Linked DNA regions of Homo sapiens: regions 2 and 3 are each linked to region 1. The links come from fine-mapping of genetic effects on gene expression. A gene starts in region 1. Each other region holds a variant in brackets. All regions are shown on one strand. Distances are between the middles of the regions.

Region 1 (6,934 bases):
GCTACTTGGGAGGCTGAGGCAGGAGAACTGCTTGTAACCTGGGAGGCGGAGGTTGCAGTGAGCCGAGATCGTGCCATTGCACTCCAGTCTGGGTGACAGAGCAAGACTCATTCTCAAAAAAAAAAAAAAAAGGAATTTTTATTACTATTTCCTGAAGAATGGTTTTTGTTAACTTGTTACTGTATCATTAAAAAGACCTTCTAATGGTTCAGTACAATAATCTAGAACTTGATTTATGTGGCTTTTTATAGTTATCTGAATGCATTCCTTTTGCCACATAGACCATATGGCTAGTTCTCCAACTTTTTTGCTTATTTTTAATAAACCTTGCTGTTCAACAATCAGAGAAACCTTTAGATTTTGGATGATTCTTCCAGTTGAGGTAGAAACATCTTAGATAATAGGAAAGGCAAATACAAAGTCCTAACATTTTCATAGTAGAGTTTACAAGTAAAATAACTTATCCATATAGGTTATCTTCGTTGTGTAGCACCAGTATAAATAGTGATTTCATTAATCATTGAATCAGATGAAGCAGTTATAAATCACTTTTTACTTTGTGCTAAGAATTATTGTAATTTCAGGACACTTTATTATTTCCTCTGAGCAGTTTCCATTGGAAGGTTGAGTTTCCCTTTTTTAAGTTCTAATCATCACTAAAGGTTAAGATAATCAAATAGGAGTTAAAATAAGTTATGTTTGATCTTTTTCCCTTGAAAATAATGCTGAACTTATTGTCTACATTCTGATTATTAGGCAGAAATGCACTTGTTTAAATCATAGAAGTAATTCATTTGGAGGATATAATTACTCGATTTTCTAGTGGTGTGAAATACTTTTTAACAATTGTGCTTGTCTGTAACTGAAATGTTATAGAATTTTAACACTATAGGGATTATAGAGTTATATTAGCTCTCCTCAAGAGACTGAAGCACAATATTTTTCATGTAACAATTCTTATCCAAGTGCTGCTAATCTGTCGTGCAAATAATGAAGCTATTTGGTTGCCTATTTAGCTATTCACAAATCACTGTAATCTTTGAAACAATCTTGTCGTTCATTTGTATTAATATTTGGATATTGTGAGTTAATACTTTAGAAAAAAATCCATCAACTCAGCCCCGTTAGCAAAACTGTTTGGATTCATAGTTTTTATATGTGTTAACAGTAGAATAAATTTTGAAGGGGCTATTTACTACCAATGACTAAGGGGAAAATTATACTGTCACTATCATTTGACTTGAACATTTGTGGTATTGTAAAAGTCTTGTCAGTTGTGTTCTAAATTGCTTAAGCCATACGTTCTCTTAAACAGGATGTTTTTTTCTTCCTTTCCAGCAGCCTTTTTCTTCTTTGTCTGTTATGGTTAATACTCCATAGATTTTAGAAATTGAGAAGTTCTTGAAACATTTTATTTTCTTGAGTTCATCACTTTTGACTCTTGTATGAGATGTGATTTGTCATAAAAGATAGCCTTCCACTACTTCACTAAATGAATTTCAGAGTAAACACTGTGATTCTGCAGAGCGGATTCAGTAGGCTTTCCAATGTTTTCTCCTGCTATACAGTGCCTACCACCTTGAGGGCACTTCAGTACTAGAGGATGAAAACTGAAACGTTGTTTTGATGTTTATTGAATAACGAGATTAGAGAATATTTGATTTTTGTTGTCAGTGTATTAAAGAAATTTTCACATTGATAAATGTTCTCTAGGAATGTGTCTACATTCATCAGGTGTGAACTCTTGTACATGAATTTTGTACCTTGAATCCACATATATATTAAGTGTATCATCAATATAAAAATAAACATTATTTGCTTAAAGTTTTTGGTACTTTTTCGGTATTGACAGCTGAACTGTTAGGGTTTGCTTCATTCAAATATCTCAGAGGCTTTGAACTATCTTGGGGTTGATGCTTCTTGTTAGTTTGTCAATGTTTGAATCCTGGTTTTGGTTTTTTCCCTGCCCTGCTCCTGCAGGTCAGAACTGGAACACGCGAGGGAAGGGACTGTTGAAGAATTGGGTGGAATCTGCTTATTCTTGGGCTTGTGTTGAGTCTGGGGATGGAACCAGAGTTCCTTAAGGTGGAATGGCTGGCTTGGCATTGACGAGTTCAGGGACCTGACTTAGGGTACTGATTTGGACCGTGACTTTTTGTTTGAGATAGAGTTTCGCTCTTGTTGCCCAGGCTGGAGTGCAATGGCGCGATCTTGACTCACTGCAACCTACACCTCCCGGGTTCAAGCGATTATCCTGCCTCAGCCTCCCAAGTAATTGGGATTACAGGCATGGGCCACCATGCCCGGCTAATTTTGTATTTTTAGTAGAGACGAGGTTTCGCTATGTTAGGCTGGTCTGAACTCCTGACCTCGGGTGAACCACCCGCCTCGGCTTCTCAAAGTGTGGGGATTACAGGAGTGAGCCACCGCGCCCGGCCTGGACTGTGACTTGGAACAAGATAGTTTTTCCTCTTTTGTTTATTTTCCTACTGCCTGCATGATTGCTATTTATTTAAAGAGACGGAGTCTCGCCACGGTGCCCAGGCTGGTCTGGAAGCCCTGGTCTCAAGAGATCCTCCCACCTCGGTCTTCCGAGTAGCTGGGACCACAGAAGCGCGCGCCGTGCACTTTTGATGTTTTCAACTTCCTTCCTAAGCAGAAAGGAGACGGCCCAGCAGCGGATGGTGAAGCTAATCCAATATAGTGAGCTGCCACCAGCGTTTTTAAGTGCATTACATAGTAAGAACGTGGTTCTGCTGGACGTTATGTACTCGGTTGCGATATAAAACGCATCATCTACAGTAGGTGACAGGCGCCAAAGTCTAAAAACTGGTCTCAAGGTGTAAGGTCCCAGGACTAGTTTCTGGAGCTACTGGCTTGTGAGTGAAGCTGGAGGCGCAGACTTCCCGGGTCACACGGTGGCAAGGCAGCTGCCTAGGGTGCGGCGGGACCGGGCGGCGCGGGGGGGCGCCTGGCCAAGCAGTGCAGCCCCGGCCGGGTTTGTAGCCAGCACAGCACAGCGGGGCCTGTGGCACCGACTGGGTTCTTTTACTTTTGACACGAAGCCCCTCCCACTTACCACGCTCTGCACGCGCCCCTGTTAAAATAGAAAAAGACCGAGAGGCCTCGGAGACTCAGTCATCATCTGTGGCTCTGGCCGCTCGCTGACGTGGCGAACTGGGCTGAGGGAGCGCCCGGCTGGGCACCCGAGAACTCCAGCCGTTCCGGCCCAGTCGCCGCTCAGAGGTGGTAACAGTAGCCGCCAAGGCCGCGCACGGGCGCATGCGCGCGTCGGACCAACCCCCTCCCCCCACCGCGCAGTCACTTCCGGCGCGCTGGGAGACGTGCGGTTCCGGGTCGCTGCTCGGCTCGCCGGCTGGGCGGTGGGGGTTGGTGACGCGGGCCGGGGCTCACGAGAGGCCCGGGAGGCGGGGCTTTGCTGGCTTCCCAGAGAGAGGCAGGTGCGCGGGCCAGGACTCCGGGAATGCGAGCAGGCCCCTTATTCTCCCAGTGGCCTCGGTCTGTCCCCACAGCGGCCCGGTCAGGGTTGCCCGAGCCCCAAGGCGGGGGGCGGCACCGGGGTGCTGAAAGGGTGAGAGTGGGGGCGGAGGCGGGCTGCCCCGGCCTGGGAGTCTGGAGCCTAGGGTTCCGGGATTCCTCCCTGCGCGACCTTGGACAAGTCGCTCCTCCTCTCTAGGGCTCAGTTTCCTTGCTGTCAAATGGGAGAGATGTTGGATCCTTCCTTTCTTTGACAGTCCAAAGCACGGGCGGGGCTGGAGGTAGCCTGAGGGAGTGAGATCCAAACTGCCGTGGCAGGCACCTGCCTGCCTCCCTGGGGGTTAGACATCTGTCTTTACCCAATTTTGCCTTGCTTTTTGTCAGTGCACATCCGTGACCAGACGCCCAGGGTCTGGCCGGGTAAACAGTATGTGAGTGTAGTAATCAACTGAGAAATAAATACTGGCTCCAGGAAAACTTAACCTCATTCAAATTGTTTTGCTCAGGGCTCCCAGGGAGAAGTGAATTTAGGCACCCGCTGCGGTGATCAATTCTGTTCTATGCGCTTGTAAGTGAAGCTCTTAGGCAAAAAACAATTTCATAGGAGATCAGGGTTAGGGAGGGTATCCCATTGAGAGTTGTGACAGGTTTTCTTACCCCCTTTAATCCTTCTTCTGCCCCTCCTCTTCCTTCACTTCTTCCCCCTATCCCCACCCAACATTTTGGCCATACACTTGAAAAGAAATACCCAATGCATTTTATCTTTGTCTTCATGCAGGACAGAATGCTTTGACCTCCAAGCTGTTTTAAATCTAGTAGATAAGCCAGGTGAGTAAGTGGTTTACACACATTGAAAGTAAAGTTTCTGAAGAATTGTACAGCCTTAATGGAGGATCTGAAGTGGTAAGATGGCATTTGTGTATCTCAGAGCAGAGCTTAGGTATCCTCCACAAAACATGGAAAGTTAAGGTTGGAACCAGAATATTAGTGTTTTATACACCATTAGGAGGAAAAGGTTTTTGAATCTTACTTTGAATATCATGTCAAACATTCTTAAGAAAAGAAACTGTGAGGCCGGGCGCAGTGGCTTATGCCTGTAATCCCAGCACTTTGGGAGGCCAATGCAGGTGGATCATCTGAGGTCAAGAGTTTGAGACCAGCCTGACCAACACGGAGAAACCTCGTCTCTACTAAAAATATAAAATAAGCCGGGCATAGTGGCGCATTCCTGTAATCCCAGCTACTCGGGAGGCTGAGGCAGGAGAATCGCTTGAACCCAGGAGGTGGAGGTTGCGGTGAGCCGAGATAGTGCCATTGCATTCCAGCTTAGGCAACAAGAGCGAAACTCCATCTCAAAAAAAAAAAAAAAAAAAAAAAAAAAAAGAAAGAAAGAAAATAAACTCATTGGAGGTAATTTTATCAAACTCAAAACCACACAGCGTCTCTAGAAAATGTTCAAGGATATCAGATACTTATATAATAGAGTTGTCTGGTGTGTCTTCTTTTTTCTGTTACCAGCTTTTCCTATTGGACAGTTGATTGCAAACCATCCTGAAACAGTAGGATATTACACCTTTTACATATTGAATTACATATTGAATATTGAATTACATATGAATTGAATTACATGCATTTTTGTCTTCAACTTAAAGAACACTAAACTGTAGTTAAGCTTATTGGAGGAAGGATTTGAAATCATTAAGTCATGAATATATGATGTTGATGTCTGCTCTGGGACATTTTACCAAGTGTGTTATATGTCATAGCCAACATGTAATTAAAAAAAAAAAACGTAGAGATTTGTGAATCAGAGTCCTCTGTTCAAATACCAGCCCTTCCACTTAGCCACACAATCTTTGGTAGGTTACTTCATCTTCTTGAGACTGGGTTTCTTCATCTGTATATGCATATGAAGCACCTGAGTGCTTTTTAAATGTTTAGTAATTGTGTTCTATAAGTGTACATGTAAGTTATGAAACTTAGTTTTGAAATCTAAAACTTAACAACTCAGATGCGAAATCTTTCCAATGTTTAACTTTTGAACTGTCTCTTTCATCTGATTTGTAGATCCTGTGTTGCCATAAGCCCTTGGCCCACATTTAAGTGGGAATGCAGCTAGCTTGGATGTCTGAAACTTTGTAGGCGCCTCTGTCTGAATCCTGAACACAGGCACCAGGACTACTGAGAGCTCGTCATCTGTGCAGGATAGCCACACAGCAAACATGTTTGCAAAACTGAAGAAGAAAATTGCAGAAGAGACTGCTGTTGCTCAGAGGCCAGGAGGTGCTACTAGGATCCCACGGTCTGTGAGCAAGGAATCAGTTGCCTCAATGGGAGCTGACTCAGGAGATGACTTTGTAAGTACCTTTACTTAAGAAATAAAGATACTTTTGCAGGGTATTCTTCCAATAAATATTTTAAATTGCTTGATTATTTCATACCTTTCATGGTTTATAGCTGTACAAGAGCCTGTACATCTGATTCTTCTTACTCTGAGGTACCTTTTTGTTAATGTTTGGTTTGTAAATGTTAAGGTACTCTATATTTTTTTCCTTATTTTTCTGTGAGTTCCTCTCCATATTCTCTCCAGTGTCCTCTTGTACTGTTTTTCCGTCTATATACCTTATACATCTTCTTTTGCATTTCATTTCTGAAAATGTCTGGGCCTGTTTTCATTGCAGACATATATACTTATATAACAACTAAGTCATTGCTGCTTAACAAGGTCTCTGAGTTGTGGTATGGGGTTAGCAAGAGTGCATTGTTGTATTGGGACGATTGTTGGAAAGATGGCCCCAGTGATTACAGTATGTTGCTTTTTTTCTTTTTTCTTTCTTTTTTTTTTTTTTTTGAGATGGATTCTCGCTCTGTAGCCCAAAGTGGAGTGCAGTGGCCTGATCTTGGTTCACCACAACCTCTGCCTCTGGGGCTCAAGCAATTCTCGTGCCTCAGCCTCCCGAGTAGCTGGGACTACAGGTGTGTTCCACCATGCCTGGCTAATTTTTTGTATTTTAGTAGAGACAGGTTTTTACCATGTTGCCCAGGGTGGTCTCAAACTCCTGAGCTCAGGCGATCCGCCCACCTTGGCCTCCCAAAGTGCTGGGATTACAGGCGTGAGCCACCATGCCCAGCCTACAATATGTTTCTTATTAGTAAAATACATTTGTGACTATAAGATTTCAAAAAATGAAGATGTTGCTATATGAGGGAAATGTCATGCTTAAAAAATAAAGTGTGGCTTTTGCATATGACAGGATCCTCTTAAGTTAGATAAATTTCTTTTCTCTTCTTTTTTTTTTTTTTGAGACAGAGTCTCACTCTGTCAGCCAGGCCGGAGTGCAGTGGCATGATCTCAGCTCATTGCATCCTCCACCTCCCGGGTTCAAGCAGTTCTCCTGCCTCAGCCTCCCAAGTAGCTGGGACTGCAGGTGCCCAC
Region 2 (6,934 bases), 33 kb after region 1:
TTTGCCTCTTCTGCTTACCAGCTTTGACTTGGAGCAGCAGTTCCCAACCGTTTTGGCACCAGGGACTGGTTTCGTGGAAGACAGTTTTTCCACAGATGGGGTCAGGTTGGGTCGGGTGAGGGGGTGGTTTCAGAATAAAACTGTTCCACCTCAGATCATCATCGTCCCTAGATTCTCATAAGGAGTGTGCAACCTGGATCCCTCACTTGCACAGTTCACAATAGGGTTCATGCTCCTATGAAAATCTAACACCACCACTGATGTGACTGGAGGCAGATCTTAGGTGGTAGTGCTTACTCACCACTCACCTCCTGCTGTGCGGCCTGGTTCCTAACAGACTGCAAGGTCTGTGGCCCAAGGGTTGGGGACCCCTGACTTAGAGCAAGTAATTTAATCTCTTTGTGTTTGCTTCCTCCCCAATAAAATTGGTTTTATTATACTATTAAACTCAGAATTGTTGTTAGGGTTAAATAAGTTACAATATGTGAAGTGCTTAGAATGATAACCGGAACAGAGTAGGGTCTCAATGTATGTCAGCTGTAAACATGATCAATATTATTATTGTGCCATCATCATTATTATAATGTTTAATGTGCATAGAAATTACTTGGGAAGTTTGTTTAAAGTATATATCTCTAGGCCAGGCGTGGTGGCTCACGCCTGTAATCCCAGCACTTTGGGTAGCCGAGGCGGGCAGATCACCTGAGGTCAGGAGTTCAAGACCAGCCTGGCCAACATGGCAAAACCCCGCCTCTATTAAAAATACAAAAATTAGGCCAGGCGCGGTGGCTCACACCTATAATCCCAGCACTTTGGGAGGCCGAGGCGGGCGGATCACAAGATCAGGAGATCGAGACCATCCTGGCCAACATGGTGAAAGCCCGTCTCTACTAAAAATACAAAAATTAGCTGGGCGTGGTGGCACATGCCTGTAGTCCCAAGCTACTCCGGAGGCTGAGGGAGGAGAATTGCTTGAACCTGGGAGGTTGCAGTGAGCTGAGATCATGCCACTGCACTCCTGCCTGGTGACAGAGCGAGACTCTGTCTCAAAAAAATAAATAAATAAATAAATTAGCTGGGCATGGTGGCGGGTGCCTGTAATTCCAGCTACTCAGGAGGCTGAAGCAAGAGAATCACTTGAACCCAGGAGGCGGAGGTTGCAGTGAGCCAAGATCGCACCACTACTTTCCAGCCTGAGCGACAAGAGTGAAATTCCATCTCAAAAATAATAAATAAGTAAATAAAGTATATATCTCTGGCCCTACCCTCAGAAATTCTGATTTCCTTAGGCTTGGAGCAAGGCCTCAAATCTGTGCAACTAGCTGAGATTAACAACTATCTCAGTAACAGCTATCTCAGCTAAGTCTACATTTCTTTTTTTTTTTTTTTTTTTTGAGACGGAGTCTCACTCTGTTGCCCAGGCTAGAGTGCAGTGGCGTGATCTCGGCTCACTGCAACCTCTGCTTCCCGGGGTTCAAGTGATTTTCCTGCCTCAGCATCCCGAGTAGCTGGGACTACAGGTGCACACCACCACATCCAGCTAATTTTTTTGTATTTTTAGTAGAGACAGGGCTTCACCATGTTGGTCAGGCTGGTCTCGAACTTCTGACCTCGTGATCTGTCCACGTCGGCTTCCCAAAGTGCTGGGATTACAGGCGTGAACCACCGCTCCCAGCCCCATTTTTTTTTTTAAGACAGAGTCTCACTCTGTCACCCAGGCTGGAGTTCAGTGGTACAATCTCTGCTCACTGCAACTCCGCTTCCTGGGTTCAAGTAATTCTCCTGCCTCAACCTCCCAAGTAGCTGGGATTACAGGTACCCACCACCACATCCAGCTAATTTTTAAAATATTTTTAGTAGAGATGGGATTTCACCACGTTAGCCAGGCTGGTCTCGAACTCCTGACCTAAAGTGATCTGCCTGCCTCAGCCTCCCAAAGTTCTGGGATTACAGGTGTGAGCCACCACACCCGGCCTAGAATTTCTACTTTGAAAAATGTTGCTTACAGAATCAAGTTCTAACTCCTTTTTGCAACATTCAAAAGCTTCTCATGAGCTGGCCCTTTTGCCTATCTTTCTAGTCTTGTTTTTTGACCTAAACCCATCATCATTTTGGCTTCTGAGGAGTAGTAGTTCCCTCAACGTAGCAGGCTGTTCACATAGCCGTTGGTCATCCCCCTGCCTGGGAGGCTCCCTGAACCCTAACGACTTTGTGAGTTCTAAAGCTGCCTACCTGCCCTGTGGCAGGGAGTATCTCCCACCCTGTGCTTCTTCCTCTTTGTGGACACTTACTGTACTCTATTGTGTAATTTTTTATTAGTCTTTTGTTCCAGCCTCAAGGTCAAGGGACTATTTCAAATTTATCTGTGTGTACTTTATGATATGTGAATTATTTCTCAATTAGCTGAATTATTAAAAATGTATTCATGTCTCTTGTGCCTAGCACAAGTCACAATATGTTGTAGATAATCTGTAAATATTTATTCAACTGAGGAATGATAGTCTTCTTTTACTCTTCTTTCAACTTACAGAAAACACTTGCTGAGCAGAATTTGGAGGATACCAGACAACAGCTCTTGGCAGCCAGAAGCAGCCAGGCTAAGGCCATTAACACCCTGGAGACTCGGGTACTGACCTTACTCCTGGTGTTTCCTAAGTTTGGGTGGTAACCTGGCTGAATGGCAACATGGTGTGACTGAGAATCTTCTTGGTCAGAGTTTTTTCACTAGAAGGGATTATTTTTGGATCTTACCTATACAGGGATGAGTTAGTCATTTTCTTCATCCTTGTCACATTACTATGATTGAGTTATATGTTTATTTATACCCTTTTATCCCCATTGGCCTCCCTCCCATAGGATACCATTCCGTTGTGGTTCATATAGATGCTCTTTTTGTTGGGTTGTTTTAAAATATGTAGCACTGGGTTTTTAATTTCTGTAAATGATGCAGCTATGGGTATGTTTTCTCTATTACTTTTAGCTGCCTCAACTTCTGTCTGTACCCACTTCATTGTACTTTGTAGTTATCTATGTGGTAGACATCCAGATTGCTTCCTTCTTCCTGCCACCTCAGATCATGCATAAAACCTAAAGAGACTAAGTACTATAGGAGAAGATTGTTCCCAGCAAGCCTGCACCTGGCTCTCCTCCTCCAGCATGCATGAGCGTTCCTATATATGCCTTTCTGACTTTTCCAGCATTGGCATTTCCAAGCCTTTACAATTTTTGCCAGTTTACTGAGTGTGGAGTGGTATTTCATTGCTTTAATTTGCATTGCTATGGTGATTAATGAGTTTGGCCTTGTCTTCATGTGCCTGTTAATTCCTGGGGGTTTCTGCTTTTGGAATTGCCCATTCATATCCTTTCCTTATTTTCTTTGGGGGTTTCAGTCTTTTCTTATTTGGTTTGTAGGATTTCATTGTATATTCTTGTTCCTAATGCTTTATCAGTTTCAGTCCTGAGTCATTCTGTTAACTTTGTCCATGTATCCTTTGTTGAATAGACTTTCTTAAGTTCAGTGTTACCAGATTCATCACATTTTTGCTGTGGAGTTTGAAGTTCCATTTAGAAAATCTATTCCTGTTCCTAAGTCACAGAGATCTACTGTTTTTTCCCTATTAACTTTATAATTTTTCCTTCACATAATAAATCTCTAATTCACTTACAAACTGTCTTTCTGTATGGTCTTAGGTAGGGATCTAAATATGGAGAAATTCTGCATATTTCTCAAAATCATTTACTAAACAG[T/C]CTGTCCTTTCTGAATTGATTCCTCTTGCTAACTTTATCACGTATTGTTTCTGTCTGCACATGGGTTTGTCTCTGCATTCTCTGTCCATTGGTCTGATTGTCTGCTCTTGTGTAAACACTACAATGTTTTTATTACTATAGTGATATCTGTACTATATCTCAACACCCAATAAGACAAATTCTCTTTTTTTTTCAAAGGTTGACTTTAACTATTTATGGGCCTTTAAAATTTTTAAGTTTTTGAGTTACTAAAAAATTCAACTTGAATTTTTATTGGGATTGCATTAAATGTATAGGCTAATTGGGAAAAATTGTCCATTTTATAATATTAATTATTCCTTCTAACAATGTAAATATATTCCATTTATTCAGATTATTTTCTGTGTGTTTTATTAAAATTTTACATTTTTCTCAATAGATGTCTTATTTTCTTGCCTAAGTTGCTAATTCCTAGAAACTTTAGAGTTTGTGTTGATACTGTGATGGTATCTTTTTTTTCTTTTGAGACAGAGTTTTGCTCTTGTCACCCAGGCTGGAGTGCAATGGCACAATCTCGGCTCACTGCAACCTCCACCTCTCGGGTTCAAGCGATTCTCCTGCTTCAGCCTGCCGAGTAGCTGGGATTACAGGTGTCCAGCATCACGCCCAGCTAATTTTTTTATATTTTTAGTAGAGACAGGGTTTCATCATGTTGGCCAGGCTGGTCTCAAACTCCTGACCTCAGATGATCCGCCTGCCTTGGCCTCCCAAAGTGCTGGGTTTATAGGCGTGAGCCACCGCGCCCGGCCTGTGATGGTATCTTATTTTTAATCTTTCTTTTTTTTTGAGATAGAGTCTCACTCTGTCGCCCAGGCTGGAGTGCAGTGGCACTATCTTGGCTCACTGCAGCCTCTGCCTCCTGGGTTCCAGCGATTCTCCTGCCTCAGCCTCCCAAGTAGCTGGGATTACAGGCACGTGCCACCACGCTAAGCTAATTTTTATGTATTTAGTAGAGACAGGGTTTCACCATGTTGAGGCTGGTCTCAAACTCCTGACCTTAGGTGATCCGCCTGCCTTGGCCTCCCAAAGTGCTAGGATTATAGGCATGACCCACTGCGCCAGGCCCTTATTTATTTATTTATTTATTTATTTATTTATTTTTTGGAGACACAGTCTCACTCTATCCCCCAGGCTAGAGTGCAATAGTGCCATCTCGGCTCCCTGCAACCTCCGCCTCCCAGGTTGAAGCAATTCTTCTGCGTCAGCCTTCTGAGTAGCTGGAATTACAGGCACGTGCCACCACGCCCGACTAATTTTTGTATTTTTAGCAGAGACGGGGTTTTGTCATGTTGGCCAGGCTGGTCTCGAACTCCTGACCTCAGCCTCGGCCTCCCAAAGTGCTGGAATTACAGGCACGAGCCACCACACCCGAACTTTATTTTTAATCATATTTATAATTGGTTATTTCTGGTTATTCTAGAGAACTGCCATTTTTTAAAGTTGATCTTGGATATCACACCCCTGCTGAACTTTCTTACTCTACTACTGTGTGATTTTTTTGTTGTTTTTCTTAGGTAGATAATCATATTATCTATGAAAAAATGACAACTTTATCTTACTCCTTCCAATCTTCCCACCTCTTATTCCATTTTCTGTTCATATAGCATTAAAGACCTCCAGACTGAGTGAAGCAATAAAAGGGTTAGTGGGAATCTTTGTTTTGTTCCCAGTCTTAAAGGAAATATGCCTAAAGTTTCATTATTTGGTGTAACATTTGCAGGTTTTTGGTATGTATGTATTTATTTATTTATTTATTTGAGGCAGAGTCTCACTCTCATCCAGGCTGGAGTGCAGTGGCATGATCTCGGCTCACTGCAACCTCCGCTTCCCAGGTTCAAACAATTCTCCTGCCTCACCCACCCAAGTAGCTGGGTTAAAAGATGCCTGCCTCCACGCCTGGCTAATTTTTATATTTTTAGTAGAGACGGGGTTTCACTATGTTGGCCAGGCTGGTCTCAAACTCCTGACCTCAAGTGATCCACCCATCTCAGCCTCCCAAAGTACTGGGAATACAGCACCATATATTTATTTATTTATTTATTTTTATTTTATTTTATTATTATTATTTTTTGAGATGGACTCCCGCTGTATCACCCAAGCTGTAGTGTAGTGTCCTGATCTCAGCCTACCACAACCTCCGCCTCCCAGGCACAAGCGATTCTCCTGCCTCAACCTCCCAAAGAGCTGGAATTATGGGTGTGTACCACCACACCCGGCTCATTTTTTTTTTTGTATTTTTTTAATTTATTTTATTTTATTTATTTTTTTTTTTTGAGACAGAGTCTGGCTCTGTAGCCTGGGTTGGCGTCCAGTGGTGCAATCTTGGCTCACTGCTCTCTCTGCCTCCTGTGTCCTGGTTCAAGCAGTTCTCCTGCCTCAGCCTCCCAAGTAGCTGGGATTACAGGCATGTGACCATGCCCAGCTAATTTTTGTATTTTTGGTAGAGACAAGGTTTCACCATGTTGGCCAGGCTGGTCTTGAACTCCTGACCTCGTGATCCACCTGCCTCAGCATCCCAAAGTGGTAGGATTACAGGCGTGAGCCACTGCGCCCAGCCTTTTTGTATTTTTAGTGGAGACGGGGTTTCACCATGTTGGCCAGGCTGGTCTCAAACTCCTGACCTCAAGTGATCTGCCCACCTCAGCTTCCCAAAGTGCTGGGATTACAGATGTGAGTAACTGTGCTGGCCAATTTGTTTAATTTCTTGAATTGAATATTTATCTCATTTTTAAAATCTTTCTTATTTCCTGATAAATACATTTTAAACTATATTTTTCTGAAAAGACTGTTTTATTATAATTTCAATTCTGTTTCTGAATATCCTTTTTGATCAGTGTACATTGTCGTACAACCATCACCACCATCCATCTCCAAAACTTTTTCATCTTCCCAAACAGAAACTCTATACTTATTAAACAGTAACTCCCCAATTCCTCCTACCCCAGTCTGGGAACCACCATTCTATTTTCTGTCTCTTTGAGTTTGGACACTCTAGATACCTCCTGTTGGTGGAATCATACAATGTTTGTCCTTTTGTGTCTGGCTTATTTGACTTAGTATATACATCTTCAGTGTTCATCTATGTTGTAGCATATGTCAGACTTTCATTCCTTTTTTTTTTTTAACAGAATTTTTTTTTTTTTTAGAA
Region 3 (6,934 bases), 100 kb after region 1:
GCATCCCGAAGTGCTGGGATTACAGGCATGAGCAACAGCCCCCGGGCCATCTCTGGGCTGTTCTGTGTGGCGTCAGATTCATACCCTTCACTCTGGCTCTCTTGGAATACGATTTGCCAGATCTAGAAACTCAGCCTTATTTATCTTACCGTATTTTTTAATACGTGTTTTTCTAAGACAGTCATTCTGTTTGGATAGCAAAGTGACCTAGACGTCAGAAGGAACCTGAGAAGCCCAGGGGGTTTGACCACCACCCACTGTCCCCAGCGTGGGCCCACAGCCCCAGCCTGCATTCCCAGTTCTCAAGTTCAGGGACTCACACCCACGGGTCTCCTCCGGCCTCTCCCACATTCTGGTGAGTCTTACAGAGGAGAACTCTCTGAGGCTCTGAGCTGAGCACCAGTGGAAGGTCTTGAACACGCCACCCTGTGGATGTCAGGCCCAGGTCTGGGGTGGATCGAGGGTGCAGGGCAGGGTAGGGGGCAGCCAGCCAGTCAGGGCCTCTGTGACAGGCCTGTCCAGCTTGTGGGGGCAGGGCCACAACCCAGCTAGAGAGGATTTTTATGCTGTTTCATTTATTTAATTTTTAAGCTCTGTCACCCAGGCTGGATGTCACCTCTGCCTCCCGAGTTCAAGTGATTCTCCTGCCTCAGCCTCCCAAGGAGCTGGGATTACAGGGGTCCGCCACCATGCCCAGGTAATTTTTGTATTTTTAATAGAGGTGGGGTTTCACCATGTTGGCCAGGCTGGTCTCAAACTCCTGACCTCAGGTGATCCAACTGCCTCGGCCTTCCAAAGTGCTGGAATTACAGGCGTGAGCCACCGTGCCCGGCCAATTTTTTTTTTTTTTTTTTGAGACGGAGTCTCGCTCTGTTGGCAGGCTGGAGTGCAATGGTGCGATCTTGGATCACTGCAACCTCTGCCTCCCAGGTTCAAGCGATTCTCCTGCCTCAGCCTGCCCAGTAGCTGGGACTACAGGCACGTGCCACCACGCCCAGGTAATTTTTGTATTTTTAGTAGAGACGGGGTTTCACCATGTTGGCCAGGACTGTCTCGATCTCCTGACTTCATGATCTGCCCACCTCGGCCTCCCAAAGTGTTGGGATTACAGGCATGAGCCATGGTGCGATCTTGGCTCACTGCAACCTCTGCCTCCCGGCTTCAAGCGATTCCCCTGCCTCAGCCTCTCGTGTAGCTGGGATTACAGGCGCGTGCCACCACGCCCAGCTAATTTTTGTATTTTTAGTAGAGACAGGGTTTCACCATGTTGGCCAGGATGGTCTCGATCTCCTGACCTTGTGATCTGCCCATTTTGGCCTCCCAAAGTGCTGGGATTACAGGAATGAGCCCCTGGGCCTGCCCCCAATTTTTAAAATTCTTAAATTGTGCCACTGCACTCCTGCCTGGGCCACAGAGGGAGACTCTGCCTCAAAAAAAAAAAAAAAAATTCTTAAACAGTCTTGGACACAACAATATTAAAGCATAAACCAGGCGTGGTGGCTCACGCCTGTAATCTCAGCACTTTGGGAGGCTGAGGCAGGTGGATTACATGAGGCCAAGAGTTCGAGTCCAGCCTGGCCAATATGGTGAAACCCTGTCTCTACTAAAAATACAAAAATTAGCTAAGTGTGGTGGCGCATGCCTGTCATCCCAGCTACTCAGGAGGCTACGGCAGAAGAATCGCTTGAACCTGGAAGGCAGAGGTTGCAGTGAGCTGAGATCGCACCACTGCACTCCAGCATGGGCAACAGAATGAGACTCCATCTCAAAATAAAAATAAAAGTAAAAATAAAAATAAAAAACAAAGGGCACTCACCACCATAGGAAAGGTAAGAAACAAAAGCAAATGGGTAATTAACTAATCAGAATAAAACACAAAGGGCACATGTGTCTGCTCCCTGTCTTCTTCCACCAACTTCGCTCTTTTAAAGGAGACTGTGCACAGTTTGGGGGGGGGTGTGTCCTTCTAACAGCTTCTCCACTGAACCCCATTTTCCCTCAGTGAAGTGGTGCTTGGTCCCTGAGAAGGGAGGTGTTGCCCAGTTAAATGAGACCAAACCAGTGAGTGCCTGGCCCGGGGCCTTGAACATAGCTGGTGCTCAGAAAGTGGCTTCCTGTCCCGGGTGAGTAGCAGGCCTGTGGTGTCTGTGATGGTAGCAGAAGGCCTGCGTCCTGGAGGCCTACGCCGACCTCCTGGGGCTCTAGGGGGACCCGACCCCCCCCGGAAAGCAGCCCAGGAAGGCAGATCATCTGGGAGCTGAGCCATGAGATGTGGAACTTGGAGTGGGTGTTGGCTCATGACCGTTCTCCCTTATCCCTTGATCCTCTGGACTGGTGGCCCACCTGGGACCCTGAAATGGGGCTCCTGGAATTCCTCTCCTCCCTGGAGCCTGGAGAAGATGCTTGGCCCCAGGGTGGGGTGGAGGAGAGGAGAGAGGACGCGGGTATAGGCGCTAGGGGTGAGGGGAGGGGCAGAAGGTGGTGCCTTCCCCCGCCCCCCATTCTTCCCTTGCTCCTGCCCTCCACCCATTGCCTTCCATCTACATCCCTCCCTGTTCCCTCCCTCCCGTCCTTGCCGGATCACGCCCCTCAACCCCTCTGGGCCCCCTGACCTCTGCAGGGCCCCAGAGAGCTCAGGGAAGAGCAAGGGACCCTCTTTCCGCAATCAGGGAGGTCTTCTGGGAGGAGACAATGGGCTTCCAGGCCTCTGGAGTTAAGGAAGTATTTGCCAGGTGCTAAGCGGAAAAGAAGATTCTGAGAGGCAGAAACGGCATCTATAAAGGCCCCAGGGTAAAGCTGCAGAGCCTGTTTCTGAAGCAGCCAGGAATCGGGTGTGGTGGGCACTGGGTCACCTGGGGGACACCTGGGGAAAATAAGAATTAGAGACTTGGGGGAGGCGTGGGGAATGGAGGCTTGGAATGCCTAGCTAAGGGGTTTAGATGGCATTCTGGCCATGGTTTTCAAAGTAGGTGTCATGGAACCCTGACGGTGCCAAGGGTGGCCTCAGAGCTACCTGGTGCAGGGGGGTCGGGGGGTGAAATGTGGAGAAAGAGGAGACGCAGGGCTGGAATTCTGGGCCTCTGGCCCCCCTCCAGCCAGAATGACTCCAATCTCACGCGAGTTCTGAACTGTGCTGTCACAAGCATTGGGGGAGCCGTGGTGAGCAACAGGGGCCTTCAGCAGCAGCAAGGGACAGCCCAAATGGCCAAATGGAGCTTTAGGAAGCCAATGGAACTTCAGGGGTCAAGTGGCCCCCCAGCCACCTCTGCTTAGGTTCTCTGGCCTGACCATTTCTTCCCAGGCCACCAGGAGGTAATAATGATAATAATTAATAATAACCTGACCATCACAGCGCCACCAGCTGGGGAACTCGAGAATCCAGGAGAGGAAGAGACGCCAAACGAGGGTCACCAGCCAGTTCGGTGGCACAGCTGGGATACGGACCCAGAATCAGCTCCCC[C/G]ATGAGGGCCTGGCCCCCCTCGGGCAGCCTGGAGCAGTTGCTGCAGGATCCCATCCCTGGCTGGGGCCTCGTGCCGCCAGCAGCCCCCTCCGCCCACCTGCCCTCCCAGCTGTCCCAGTCACACCCGGCACCCATGTGCCCTGTGGAAATCTGACCAGCCTCGCAGCGCCCTCCAAGGAGACAGCTGACGGATGGGGCTTGGGAGAGTGGGGGTCATGTGGGAAGCAGAGCTCAGGCCAGAAAGCGGGAGCCGCCCTGGCCGGGCAGGGAGACACTGGCAGTTTCTGCTTGCCGTGTGACCTTGAGCTCCTTGCTGAGCCTCTCAGGGCTGGCAAGGGCTGCTCTGAGCCACCTGGAGCTGGGGCTAAGTACAGGCAACTTGTGGGTTCCCGGGTCCATGGGCTCACACCTGGAACTTGGCACCGGCCTCCATTGGGCACCCCCCAGACCCCCACCCTGTGGGCCAGAATGATGGGATCTGACTGGCTGTGTGAGTCCAGGCTAATGTATCGGCTTGTCTGGGCCTCAGCTTCCTCATCACAAAGTTGAAAGTGTTGGCAGCTGGGGTGCCGTGCAGTAGCCCGGCCCCTCCATTCAGAAGCTTGTCTCAGCAGCCCCACACCTCCCCCAGGCCCTGAAATGCTTCAATGGCCATTTTGTATCAGGCCAGGGAACTGATGTTTGCTCAGCTGCCCCCACCCCTGAGACTTCATGATAATGGACTCCTGCCAGCCCAGGGCCCCTGTGTCTGGGGGTAGGGGTGGGTAGGAAGCCCTCCTCGGCCTGTCTGGGGCATTGCCCTTCCCTTCCTGACCAGTAGGGGTAGGAGGAACATCGAGTCATTTCCTCTCCCATTTCTTTCCAGAAGTTCAGGCCTAAATCTCAGCCTTCCACTGCCCGCAGCTGTGCCGTTCTATGCAAGTCTCCATTGCGCACTCTGCGAGGGCTTAGCATCCATCCAGACCTGGGTTCAAATCCCCACTTGAGGCTGGGTGCAGTGGCTCATGCCCACAATCCGAGCACTCTAGGAGACCAAGGCAGGAGGACTGCTTAGAAGCCAGGAGTTCAAGACCAACCTGGGCAACATAGCAAGCACCCATCTCCACAAAAAATAAAAGATAAACATTTAGCAGGGGCCAGGCACGGTGGCTCATGCCTGTAATCCCAGTACTTTGGGAGGCCGAGACGGGCAGATCACTTGAGGTCAGGAGTTCAAGACCAGCCTGGCCAACATGGTGAAACCCTGTCTCTACTAAAAATACAAAAATTAGTTGGGCATGGTGGCAGGCACCTGCAATCCCAGCTACTCGGGAGGCTGAGGCAGGAGAATTGCTTGAACCCAGTGAGAGGTGACAGCGTGCTGGCAGTCCTCACAGCCCTCACTCGCTCTCGGTGCCTCCTCTGCCTGGGCTCCCACTTTGGCGGCACTTGAGGAGCCCTTTAGCCCACTGCTGCACTGTGGAAGCCCCTTTCTGGGCTGGCCAAGGCCAGAGCCGGCTCCCTCAGCTTGCAGGGAGGTGTGGAGGGAGAGGCGCGAGCGGGGAACCGGGGCTGCGCGCGGCGCTTGCGGGCCAGCTGGAGTTCCGGATGGGTGTGGGCTTGGCGGGCGGGCTTGGCGGATGCACTCGGAGCAGCCGGCCGGCCCCACCGGCCCCGGGCCAGCGGCTGCAGAGGGTGTACTGGGTCCCCCAGCAGTGCCAGCCCACCAGCGCTGCGCTCGATTTCTCACCGGGCCTTAGCTGCCTTCCCGCGGGGCAGGGCTCGGGACCTGCAGCCCGCCATGCCTGAGCCTCCCACCGCCTCCATGGGCTCCTGCGCCGCCCAAGCCTCCCCGATGAGCGCCGCCCCCTCGCTCCACGGCGCCCAGTCCCATCGACCACCGAAGGGCTGAGGAGTGCGGGCGCACCGCGCGGGACTGGCAGGCAGCTCCACCTGCAGCCCTGGTGCGGGATCCACTGGGTGAAGCCAGCTGGGCTCCCGAGTCTGGTGGAGACGTACAGAACCTTTATGTCTAGCTCAGGGATTGTAAATACACCAATCAGCACCCCGTGTCTAGCTCAGGGTCTGTGAATGCACCAATCGACACTGTATCTAGCTACTCTGGTGGGGCCTTGGAGAACCTTTATGTCTAGCTCAGGGATTGTAAATACACCAATGGGCACTCTGTATCTAGCTCAAGGTTTGTAAACACACCAATCAGCACCCTGTGTCTAGCTCAGGGTTTGTGAATGCACCAATCGACACTATGTATCTAGCTGCTCTGGTGGGGCCTTGGAGAACCTTTGTATCCATACTCTGTATCTAACTAATCTGATGGGGACGTGGAGAACCTTTATGTCTAGCTCAGGGATTGTAAACGCACCAATCAGCACCCTGTCAAAACAGACCACTGGGCTCTACCAATCAGCAGGACGTGGGTGGGGCCAGATAAGAGAATAAAAGCAGGCTGCCCGAACCAGCAGTAGCAACCCTTTGGGTCCCCTTCTGCACTGTGGAAGCTTTGTTCTTTTGCTCTTTACAATATATCTTGCTACTACTCAGTTTTTGGGTCCGCACTGCTTTTATAAGCTGTAACACTCACCGTGAAGACCTGCAGCTTTGCTCCTGAGCCCAGCGAGACCATGAGCCCACGGGGAGGAATGAACAACTCCAGACGTGCTGCCTTAAAAGTTGTAACATTCACCATGAAGGTCTGTAGCTTCACTCCCGAGCCAGCGAGACCACGAACCCACCAGAAGGAAGAAACTCCGAACACATTTGAACATCAGAAGGAACAAACTCCAGACGCGCTGCCTTAAGAGCTGTAACACTCACTGCGAGGGTGCGCAGCTTCATTCTTGAAGTCAGTGAGACCAAGAACCCACCAATTCCGGACACACCAGGAGGTGGAGGTTAAACTGAGCTGAGATTGTGCCATTGCACTCCAGCCTGGATAACAAGAGTGAAACTCTTAAAATAATACATATATGTATATGTATACGTATATATGTATGTATATGCACAAATTAAACTTGTCATTATAAAATGTTTCTTGTTGTTGTTCTCATGCTATATCTTTTCCCATCCTTTTCTTGGACACCTCTAATAACATACCCTTTTATGTTGACCTTTCTGTATCATTTTGTTTCAATGTGTCTCAATTGAATGATTTATCTAGTTTGTTCACACTTACTGATTTACTTGGTTTTAAAAAATCTACCTTTTGTGCCTTTTTTCTTGCTTTTTATACATTTCCTTGTCTCTCGTTTCTTTAAATTTTGTTTACTTATTTGAGACAGGAGTCTTGCTCTGTCACCCAGGCTGGAGTGCAGTGGCACAATCTCACTGCAACCTCTGCCCCGGGGTTCAAGTGATTCTCCTGCCTCAACCTCCTGGGAAGCTGGGATTATAGGCATGCACCACCATGCACGCCTAATTTTTGTATTTTTAGTTGGGGGCGGGAGGGAGTCTGACCACGTCAGCCAGGCTGGTCTC

Evidence for each region. PIP is the estimated chance that this variant, and not a neighbour inherited with it, causes the effect.
Region 2: its variant is the best candidate, but not a certain one, in a credible set for the expression of GOLGA1 in whole blood (TOPMed, PIP 0.51).
Region 3: its variant is the best candidate, but not a certain one, in a credible set for the expression of GOLGA1 in whole blood (TOPMed, PIP 0.78).

Annotation. Positions count from the first base shown.
Region 1 is chr9:124,937,498-124,944,431 of GRCh38, reverse strand. It overlaps GOLGA1 (golgin A1), which reads left to right and starts at 3,349. Exons shown (of 23, transcript NM_002077.4): 1 at 3,349-3,461; 2 at 4,277-4,326; 3 at 5,566-5,855. The coding sequence starts at 5,721. SCAI (suppressor of cancer cell invasion) reads left to right here. Exons shown (of 18, transcript NM_001144877.3): 18 at 1-1,824. RefSeq lists silencers at 2,915-2,974, 3,305-3,674 and enhancers at 2,756-3,256, 3,257-3,757.
Region 2 is chr9:124,904,069-124,911,002 of GRCh38, reverse strand. It overlaps GOLGA1 (golgin A1), which reads left to right. Exons shown (of 23, transcript NM_002077.4): 12 at 2,531-2,626. Among named protein-coding and RNA genes, the nearest start is that of GOLGA1, 34 kb to the left of the region's middle. The variant T/C (reference allele first, on the strand shown) is at 3,748.
Region 3 is chr9:124,837,156-124,844,089 of GRCh38, reverse strand. No RefSeq gene overlaps it. Among named protein-coding and RNA genes, the nearest start is that of WDR38, 13 kb to the left of the region's middle. RefSeq lists enhancers at 3,132-3,734, 3,735-4,338. The variant C/G (reference allele first, on the strand shown) is at 3,461.